Linked DNA regions of Homo sapiens. The protein of the gene in region 1 interacts with the protein of each later gene in a pairwise test. Each region holds a gene or a part of one and is shown in the gene's direction. Other genes may lie near its edges.

What was found.
Region 2: the proteins of PXT1 (region 1) and ALDH3A2 come close enough for resonance energy transfer, tested with the Homo sapiens proteins (one large-scale study listed by BioGRID).
Region 3: the proteins of PXT1 (region 1) and ABCD1 come close enough for resonance energy transfer, tested with the Homo sapiens proteins (one large-scale study listed by BioGRID).

What each region holds. Positions count from the first base shown.
Region 1 is NC_000006.12:36,390,748-36,394,400, reverse strand, and holds part of PXT1 (peroxisomal testis-specific protein 1), read left to right. Parts: intron 1-2,526; coding exon 2,527-2,631; 3' UTR 2,632-3,653.
Region 2 is NC_000017.11:19,675,287-19,678,112, forward strand, and holds the end of ALDH3A2 (aldehyde dehydrogenase family 3 member A2), read left to right. Parts: intron 1-271; coding exon 272-286; coding exon of another isoform or gene 287-339; 3' UTR 340-2,310; downstream 2,311-2,826.
Region 3 is NC_000023.11:153,734,837-153,738,489, forward strand, and holds part of ABCD1 (ATP-binding cassette sub-family D member 1), read left to right. Parts: intron 1-15; exon of another isoform or gene 16-1,275; coding exon 1,276-1,418; exon of another isoform or gene 1,419-1,508; coding exon 1,509-1,677; exon of another isoform or gene 1,678-1,775; coding exon of another isoform or gene 1,776-2,075; exon of another isoform or gene 2,076-2,320; coding exon 2,321-2,415; exon of another isoform or gene 2,416-3,653. UniProt on the Homo sapiens protein: ATP-dependent transporter of the ATP-binding cassette (ABC) family involved in the transport of very long chain fatty acid (VLCFA)-CoA from the cytosol to the peroxisome lumen.

The sequences.
Region 1 (3,653 bases):
TGTTAGAAAGAAGGGAGGGAAACAAACATTTATTAAAACATTTTTTCCAGGTACTGTTTGAGACACTTCTACATGTTTCATTTAATTCCCCCAATAACCCTATGAATTACTGTCATAGGTATTTCAGGAGAAGCAATGGAGTTTCAGAGAGATTACAAAACTTATCAAAGGTCACTTAGCTTCTAAGTGGCAAAACTAGAATTTAAATATATGAGCATCTGACTCAGTGTTCTATACTTTTTCTTGTCTGCCATGCTGAAAGGAAACTCATTCCGTTTTCCTAGCTGATATCGACTATAAGAGGGGGAGAAAAATCCTTTAATGATTTTCGGTTACTAGCAGGACAAAGTCTAAGTTCCTTAGCCTACTGCTAATGGTTTTTCATTCCTTCCTGAATTCATTTCTTCAACTTATATTGAGCACCTGCTGTATGTCAGGCTCTGTTTAAGTACCGGAGATATGGGAGTGATCAAAGAGACAATATTACTGATCTCACGGAGTTTTTAAGGGAGACAAACAGTATCTACACAAATAAAGTATGTAGTTTATCAGATAGAGATACATGCTTTGGAGAAAAATAAAGCAAGGAAAGGGATAAGGAGTGTTGGGGTTTGCAATTTTAAGTAGAGATGTTAAGGGAAGGCCTCATTGAGAAGGTGACTTTTTTTTTTTTTTGAGGCATAGTCTCACTCTGTCATCCAGGCTAGAATGCCATGGCACAAAGTTGTCACCGCAACCTCTGCTCCCAGGTGCAAGCAATTATCATGCCTCAGCCTCCCGAGTAGCTGGGATTACAGGCATGCACCACCACACCTGGCTATTTTTGTATTTTTAGTAGAGGGGGTGTTTCACCATGTTGGTCAGGCTGGTCTCAAACTCCTGGGCTCAAGTGATCCACCAGCCTTGGCCTCCCAAAGTGCTTACAGGCATGAGCCACCAAGAAGGTGACTTCTGAGGAAAACCTTGAAAGAAGTGTGGGACTGAGCTGTGGATATTGGGGAGGAGGCAGAGGATTGGAGGCAGGAGGACAGCAAAGCGCTTGGGGCAGGAGTGCATCTCGTGTGTTTGAAGAATGGCAAGGAGGCCAGTGTGGCTGAAGCTGAGTGAGGGAGAAGGTCATAAAAGATATGGTCAGGGCCAGGCGTAGTGGCTCACGCCTGTAATCCCGGCACTTTGGGAGGCCGGATCACTTGAGGTCGGGAGTTCGAGACTAGGCTGACCAACATGGAGAAACCCTGTCTCTACTAAAAATACAAAAAAAATTAGCCGGGCTTGGTGGTGCATGCCTGTAATCCCGGCTACTCGGGAGGCTGAGGCAGGAGAATCACTTGAACCTGGGAGGTGGAGGTTGTGGTGAGCCGAGATCGTGTCATTGCACTCCAGCCTGGTCAACAAGAGCGAAATTCTGTCTCAAAAAAAAAAAAGATATGGTCAGAAGGGTGGGTGGTGGGCAGATTAGGTAGGGCCTTGAGGTCACTGCAAGGACTTTTTTTCTAAGTGAGGTGGTGCCATCGGAGGGCACTGAGCAGAGAAGCCGCATTTCAACAGTCCACAGAGGGGGCTGTGCTGAGAACAGACTGCAGGGGGCAGGCGGGGGAGCATTTGTGTCTGACCCATGGTCTTCTTTTTCTGATGTTCCGACATAAACAGTTGTTACTTTCTGCTCCAAAATACTTAATATTCACCTCACCTCTTTGCCCATCTAAGTCCTAGACATTATTAATTATTATTATTATTATTGAGACAGGATCTCCCTCTGTTGCCCAGGCTGGAGTGCTGTGGCACAATCACAGCTCACTGCAGCCTCAACTTCCCAGGCTCAGGTGATCCTCCCACCTCAGCCTCCTGAGTAGCTGGGACTACAGGTGTGTGCCACCATGCCTGGCTCAGTTTTTCTAGAGATGAGGTTTCACCATGTTGCCTAGGCTGGTCTCAAATTCCTGAACTCAAGCCATTCACCTGCCTTGGCCTCCCAAAGTGCTGGGACTACAGGCAGGAGCCACCATGCCCAGTCTTCTCTCCATTCTTCTAGCCTCAAGGCAAACTTGCTCACCTCTTTGAAAGAACTAAGAAAGTGTTTTGGGAATCCAGGGGAATAGGTTATCAGCCCTGAAAAGAGTGCCCCAATTTACTGATGAGCCCCAGTTTGTTGAGACCAGCCAAGGCAACATAGTGAGACCCTGTCTGCACAAAATATTTTTAAAAATTAGCCAGACATGGTGGCATGCATCTGTGGTCCTAGCTACTGGGGAGGCCGAGGTGGGAGAATCACTTGAGCCCAGGAGTTTGAGGCCAGGTGGGAAAGACGGTCAGATAGGAAAATATGTCCAGAGGCGTTGTGAGGATATGACCATATGGAAGGTACTGTCCTTCAGCTCATACAATTCATAAAGCAACCCAAGAAGCTTGTTTGCAGCATGGATTGAATTAATATTTTCCATTGTGTTGAATTTTTAACTTTGGATTATTCTATCACTTTTAAAAAAAAAAAAAAACCTTTCTCTGTGTCTCCCTTTTTTCAAATAGGATCTTCAACAGGATGGCAGAGATGCACTAGATCATTTTGTCTTCTTTTTCTTTAGAAGAGTTCAGGTGTTGCTGCATTTTTTCTGGAACAACCATTTGCTGTAAAAGGAAAGTAAAGGTCAAGTGGTCAAGTTCTGTTTTCTTTTTACCCTCTGAGAAACATGAATCCCACTGGGACAGATGGGAAGAACACCCTTCTCCGTCTCCCTCTTTTTGTACCCATCACTGTTGGTCTACACCCAGTTTGTTGAAGAACTGCGGGTTCACGAGCCATTTGTCTCTTCGGAGGAGCTAGCTATGAGATGTCTGCGATCACATCACGGTAAAGCCCAAGGAGTAATTAGGACCCCAGGAAGCCTTGCTGCCCAGAAAACACCAGCGCTGTGGATGGTCCCAGGGCTCCTTGTGAGGAAACCTTGAACATTTCCTTCCAGGAATGAAAGAGAACCTCGTCCTCAAACTAAAGGCCACAGAAATGGGCACTACCTCCTGGCCCACTCCCTGGGCACCATGCCCTCTGGTGACCTGTTGGCTCCACTCTTGTCACTCATGTCCAGATCTGCAGTGCCAGCTTCTCCTTCTCGGTGACATGTCACCTCCCTGCCCCAATCCTGGCTCCAACCCTCTCTGGAAAATCGAAGTGAAACATTTGTCTCTAATACTCAAATTCAACATATGGCTCATCTCATCTACCTTCCCATTTCCATGCCTAGAGGCCCCACTACTACCACTAGCACCGTTGGGTGTTTCCTTCTCAGGCTCTGATTCTACAACATTTACGTTCTTTTCTCACCTTTGATCCCCTCACTCCTCTGTGACCCCCTTCAAGTCTTCCTTCACCACTCCAGTGTTTTCCCATACCACTCGACCCTGCTCGAAGGTATCTTTCCCTGCTCTGTCATCCTCTTTTAGGCATGCCTGCTTAAAATCGGGAGTGCTTAGTCCTTGGCCAACAGTCCTGCCTTCTAGAAGAATGTAAGACCTGAAAGAGTTATGAATCTATCACTAGGCAAAAACTTCTCTTTTCCTATTGCTGGATGGTTTTGCTATTATTGGTTGGTGGGCCCTTTGCCTGTGGAATGTATTTCACTCATTCTCTCCTGCACGCTGTTAGGCAGTTCTTTCAC
Region 2 (2,826 bases), on another chromosome or scaffold:
GCTAGTTGACAGTGGACAGAATATAGCCTTCATTATCACGTTGTCTTACTCTTATTGTTATTGTTGTTTTTTGAGGAAGGGCATAATCCTTTGGCCTAAACCGTGCTTCCTAGGCTTCCTAGGGATATGTAGTCCTTTTTTGTACAATGCATGTAGAGTCTCTTCAGACAGGAGGTGTCTGAGTCCCAGTGCTGAGCTTGTGTTGCAAGGCTGGTTGTGGGTAGGTTTTTAAAGCAGCTGAGTAAACTGAATCCTTTTTTCCTCTCTCCAGGCAGAATATTACTGAAGAATGATCCTGTTCAACCTCCTAGTGCCTCTACTGAATTATTCCTCTTTTAAATGGTTAATGAACCAATAATTTTTAAATCATACCAAAAATAGTAAGAAAATATGCAAACACTCTGTGATCAAACTTAAAAGTCATTGCCATTCATCATTAATAAAAGTTGCCATTTCAACTACGTCCCAACATTCCCTAATAGGGTATTCAGGGAACCTGTCTTAAATTGTGCTTATCTAAATCTTGGAACTTTGAGCTAGGGGAGGAGAATGTATTAGACTAAATACAAACTGCGGGGTTGTAAGGGAGTCTCAGAACCTCACTGAATCCTTCACTCCAGTTAATGGCACTGCTCACTTCCTGCCTCTGCTGCCACCATCACTGTGTGAAGCTTTCAAGAGCTTGGTACTTCCCAGGGCTACCGGCAGTCCTCTGTAGTCCAGAGAGGTGAGATTAGATCTTCTTGGTTCCCTGTGAGGTTTCAGGCACTAAAACTCTATGTGGGGAAGGGAGGGGTTACTCCTCCTCCAATGGGACTCAAGGACTTGACCTCCAGGAGTAGGCCCCTGGTCAGAAGTGCCATCTCACCAGTGGTCTTCATTCTTCCTCATTCATTCTTTATCATCCTGTGTTCTGTTTAGTTGCAACAATCTCTTGTGACTAATGTCACTCAAAGCATCTTGTAAATCCTAGGGCTTCCTGGAAGTTAGTTGCCAAAGTCATGCAAGCATCACCTGTCATTCTTGTGTTGGAGTTATAGAATTCTACATCTTATAAAACCTAACTGGCATTTAAAAAATACTGTGGCCGGGCGTGGTGGCTCATGCCTGTAATCCCAGCACTTTGGGAGGCCGAGGTGGGAGGATTGCTTGAGTCCAGGAATTTGAGACCAGCCTGGACAACACAGTGAGACCTCATCTCTATCAAAAAATAAAAATTAGCTAGATGTGGTGGCATGAGCCTGTGTTCCCAGCTGCTTAGGAGGCTGAAGCAGGAGGATTGATTGAGCCTGCGAGGCCAAGGCTGCAGCAGGCTGTGATTGCACCACTGCACTTCAGCTTGGGCAACAGAGCAAGACCCTGTCTCCGAAACAAATAAAAAATACTGTAATAAAAGTACTTATAAACATACTAATCCTCTTTCAGGACCCTAAAGTTGCAGGTTAGTAGGTCTTCAAGGACAAATCTGTAAGTTTCTTATTTCTGTAGTGCAAGTAAAATTTCACTTTTTGAAACTATAGAGAGATCCCTTTCTGATTAGCCTACAGAACTTAAAGTGAGGGAACCATTTCCTCTCACAGACAAAGAGGCCTGGGATATTAGGACTTTGGGGTTTGAGAGCATCATGGGGCAGACAGATGGTGGATGGTCTGGACAAGAAGCGAGTAAGCCACTGCGGTTGGTCATACTGAAGGGAATTGATGGCAAGAGGATCCCCTGAGCAAGTCAGAAGTTACTCTCATCAGTCGTTCATGGTCACAACCTGAGGTACTCTGCTGAGTGGGCAAGGCTGAAGAAGAGGCCTGTGGAATGCAGCATTACCTGCTGGACAGAGCAGGGCAGGCAGTTCTATGCCTTGGAGCTCCTGACTGCAGGGACTCTGTCCCCACACTCAAAAAGACTCAGCTCACTCAATGAGAGAATGTGATTTACTTTATAGAACGTATAATCAACTTTGTTGAATAATTTGTTCTATTAAGGCTGTCTAAAGTATGTGATGTCTTCATCATAGTATGAAGTGTTGAAAATTAATAACGAGCCTAGTTTAGGAAAAAGCTGCTTAAAACTGTGGCTCTAAGAGAGTAATCATAAAATACCTTAGATAAAATTGCACTATGGAATTTTCATTGAGTATGTTTAAATTATTGGCTTGTCTACTAATACACATCTGCTTCAAAATGAACATATTTCATAAAATTGGCATCAATTTTAATGACGCTCCTGGTATGGAACCTCAGATATACCCTATTGGAGACAATCCTTTGATCATAAATTCTCCCCAACTATAAATCATTTTATGTCTTTATCATAGATGGTATTTGTCAACTTTTTTTTTCTCATTTTAAAATTCTTAGCTGAGAAGATTTTCTCAAACTTTATGTTCTGCTGTGTGTGTTGGGGGTGGTGGTTAGTAGCTATAGTAAATAGGTTTTTCCAGTGGCATCCTCCTACCCCCAGTTGCTGATCTAGAACAAGTGTTTCTGTAAGCATATTTGTAGAACACTAATCCCGCAAGATTTTACACAAAAAAATGGTCCTGCCACCAGTCCTGTATACCACTGGCTTGTAAAGCACATCAGCAAACTAAAGGACCCAGGTCATTTGGAACCTCTGAAGTGCTAGTGTGTGCAGCTCCCAGACTTCCTTGACCGCGGAGCCGTTTACCTTAATACCTGTTAACCATGGACCACACTTGGGCAAACAGTGGCATAGAGTCTGGAATTGCTTCCATGATGACTTTGCTGTGCTCTGTTCCTACTTGTTTTGTGCCCTTATTTATATCATGTCACTACTAGAAGAAAAAGTTCAGTAAGAACAAGTATTTCT
Region 3 (3,653 bases), on another chromosome or scaffold:
GTTGTGCAGCCATCATCACTAACTCCAGAATGTTTTATTTTTATTTTATCCCCCAAAGAAACCCCAGACCCATGAACAGTCACTCCTCATTCCCTCTCTCCAGCCCCTGGCACCCACTCATCTGCTTCCTGTCTCTGTGGATTTGCCTATCTGGACATGTCCTAGAAATGGAATCATGTGCTCTGTGGCATTTTGTGACTAGCTTCCTTCACTGAGCATCATGGTTTCAAGATTCGTCCATGTCATAAGATGAATCAGTCCTTCATTCCTTTTCATGGCTGAATAATATTCCATTGTGTGCATAGACCACAATTTCTTTATCCATTCATCCCTTGATGGACATTTTGGGTTTCTTCATGTTTTGGCTATTGTGAATAACACTGCTGTGAACATCCATGGACAAGTCTCTATGTGTGCAGATATTTTCGTTTCTCCTGGGTGTGTAGCTAGGAGTAGAATTGCCAGGTCACATGGTAACTGGACGTTTCACTTTTTGAGGAGCTGCGAGACTGTTCTCCACAGTGGCTGCCCCATTTTACCTTCCCGCCAGCAGTGTTGGAGGGTTCCACCTTTTCATCGTGGCTAGCACTGGTTATCATCTCCTTTGTATTCTAGCCACCTAGTGGGTGTGAGGCAGTATCTCTTGGTGGTTTTGATTTGCATTTCCCTGATGACTAATGACGCTGAGCCTCTTTTGATGTGTTGAGTGGCCATTTGTATGTCTTCTTTGGAGAAATGTCTGTTCACGTCCTTCGCCCATGTGTGATCGGGTTATCTCTGTCGCTGAGTTGTAAAAGCTCTTTGTATATTCTGGATACTGCACCCTCATCAGATGTGTGGTTCACCAGTCCAGAGTTTTCTCCCAGTCTGTAGGTTGTCTTTTTCACTGTCTCGATATTGTCCTTTGGTGCACAAAAGTGTTGAGTTGAATGAGGTTCAGTTGATCTGTTTTTCTCTTGTTGCTCATGCTTTTGGTGTCCTAGTGAAGGAACTATTGCCATATCCAAGGTCGTGAAGTTTTATCCCATTTTCTTCTGAGAGTTTCATACTTTGGGCCACACTACACATCAGCCTGTGATGTGCTCTGGGTTGGTTTGTCTGTATGGTGTGAGGGGTCCCTCTCCTGCACATAGAGAGAAAGAGAGAGAGAGCTGGTTGCCCCGGCACCATTTGCAGAAGAGCCTCGCCTTTCTCTCCAGCGGCTCATTTTTGACTTTCCGCTGTCTCTGCCCTGCCCCTCCCCGCCCCGCCACCCACCCCTCTGGGGCTTTGCAGATGCAGAGGCCGTGAAGAAGGCAGCCTTGGAAAAGAAGGAGGAGGAGCTGGTGAGCGAGCGCACAGAAGCCTTCACTATTGCCCGCAACCTCCTGACAGCGGCTGCAGATGCCATTGAGCGGATCATGTCGTCGTACAAGGAGGTACCCCTGGCCCAGCCCCACCCTTGCCATCCTTGCCATGCTTCTCTCCCTGCAACTGGCAGGGGCTGAGCCAGGGTCACCCTCCCTCAGGTGACGGAGCTGGCTGGCTACACAGCCCGGGTGCACGAGATGTTCCAGGTATTTGAAGATGTTCAGCGCTGTCACTTCAAGAGGCCCAGGGAGCTAGAGGACGCTCAGGCGGGGTCTGGGACCATAGGCCGGTCTGGTGTCCGTGTGGAGGGCCCCCTGAAGATCCGAGGTAAGGCTGTCCCCTCCCTATGAGTGACCCCGCCCCTGCTGCTGCTGCAGGTGCTGACCTGCTGCCCCAGCTCCTCCTATTCCCGCTCCCTCACTCAGGGACCTCCATGTGCTTCTGGCCCATCCCAGTCCACCCAGGACGGGAGGGCTGCCGGGCAGGGTCTTTGAGGACTTCGGCCTGGTCGAGCTGGGCCCCTGGAGGGTTTCCTGCAGAGAGGTGCTGGTCCGCCCGCCTTCCTTCCCAGACAGTAGCTGCCGGCCACCGTACTGACTCGCCCTTTGAGGGCCTCAGCCTGGATTATTCATTCAAAACAAGGGGGATGTGGTCCCCTCACCCATGCAGGACAGCAAGAGAAAGTTCCAGTCAGTGTGCCAGCTGCTGGCTGCCACGGGAGGCAGGTGCTGCAGAAGGGAGTGGCGGCCCAGGGCACTGTATTAGACACTGGGGGAAGAGTTCAGCTTGTTGGAAGACCTGGCTGTGTTCCCTAGGGACCCTGGACCACAGGCTGCTGGTCAGGAACCAGCTGGCATGCTGCCAGGGATGGGAATGAGGGCGTGCAGCCAGGGGCACGCAGACTCCCCAGAATGCAGAGGGGTCGCCACCACTCCCTCTCCACCCCAGCCCCGCTGTGCTGTCTCTGCAGGCCAGGTGGTGGATGTGGAACAGGGGATCATCTGCGAGAACATCCCCATCGTCACGCCCTCAGGAGAGGTGGTGGTGGCCAGCCTCAACATCAGGGTAGGTCCAGCGGGGAGGGCGCCAGCCACGCACATATGCAAGCCTCAGCCCTTGGCTTCCCGCCTGTCTGTGCTGGCAACAGCCATTGTCCCTAGATGTACGTGGCAGGTGGGCCAAGGTCAAGGTGAGAGACCAACGTGTCTCTGACTGTTCATCCTGGGGCAACAGAGGCAGGGCTCATAAAAGAGACTAGTGATACCAGGATTGACCAAGGTTCACCCCGGCGTTCCTGGCCCTATCATCTGATGCCAACTCCCCACACTCCTAAGAAAGCCAAGACCCGGGTGGGGGGGCTCTGGTTCAAACCTTGCCGCTCGACCTCCCTCGGAAGGCCACAGCAAGGAATCCACAGATCACCTGTGTCCCCAGCCAGGGGTTTGGACAGGGCTGGGGAGTAATGGAGTGAGGGGGAGACTGGGGTGGAGGGACAGGTAGAGAAGTGACAAGGAATCACTCATTCATTCACTCATTTAACCAATGTGCCCTGAACTCTGAGCCGGGCACCAGAAACCCGAGGTAAATCAGGAGACCTGCACTCAGGGAGTCTTCACTGTGGAGGGGCACTAAAGTGTTACAAAGGGTCTCCAGGTAGACAGCTGTTCAAGGGACAGTGGGGGTCACAAGAAGAGTGGTCAGAGTCCCTGGGGGTGGTGGGGGTGGGATGAAGCCTTGCCCAGGAGTTGCTGTGAGCGAGTGGGCAGGCAGCTGAGGGTAGAGGAGTGAGGGGCCGTGGGCCTGAGGGGCAGGTCACGCAGGAGGAAGCAGAGAGGAGGGGCATGCCAGGGAGGAGGGGGCCGGCACAGGTGGTTACCCCTCACCGCTCGCAGCGGCCCCTCCTAGGATGTCGGGGGAGCTGATCACCAGTGAGTCCAAGGAAGGTGGTTTCCAGGCTGGCCCCGGGCAGCACAAGCAGGCAGGGGCAGCGGGCAAGCTCATGGGGCCCCTGCGCGCAGGGCCACATATGCTCAGGGAGCCGGGTATGCGAGATGGGGCAAGGCCCAGGCCCCACCCTTCAGGAGGGGACAGTCAGGTGGCTTCATTAGCATCCTGTGGCTGCGGTCACAAAGCGTTACAAACTTTGAGTGGCTTTCCCAGCAGAGATGGCCTCTCTCCCGGCTCGGGGAATAGCAGTCCGAGAGGAAGGCGCAGGCAGGGCGGGCTTCTGCCAAGGACCGAGAAGGTGCCTCCGCTCGGGGCCTCTGTCCCAGCTTCTGCTCTGCTGCCCATCTGCGGGCTTC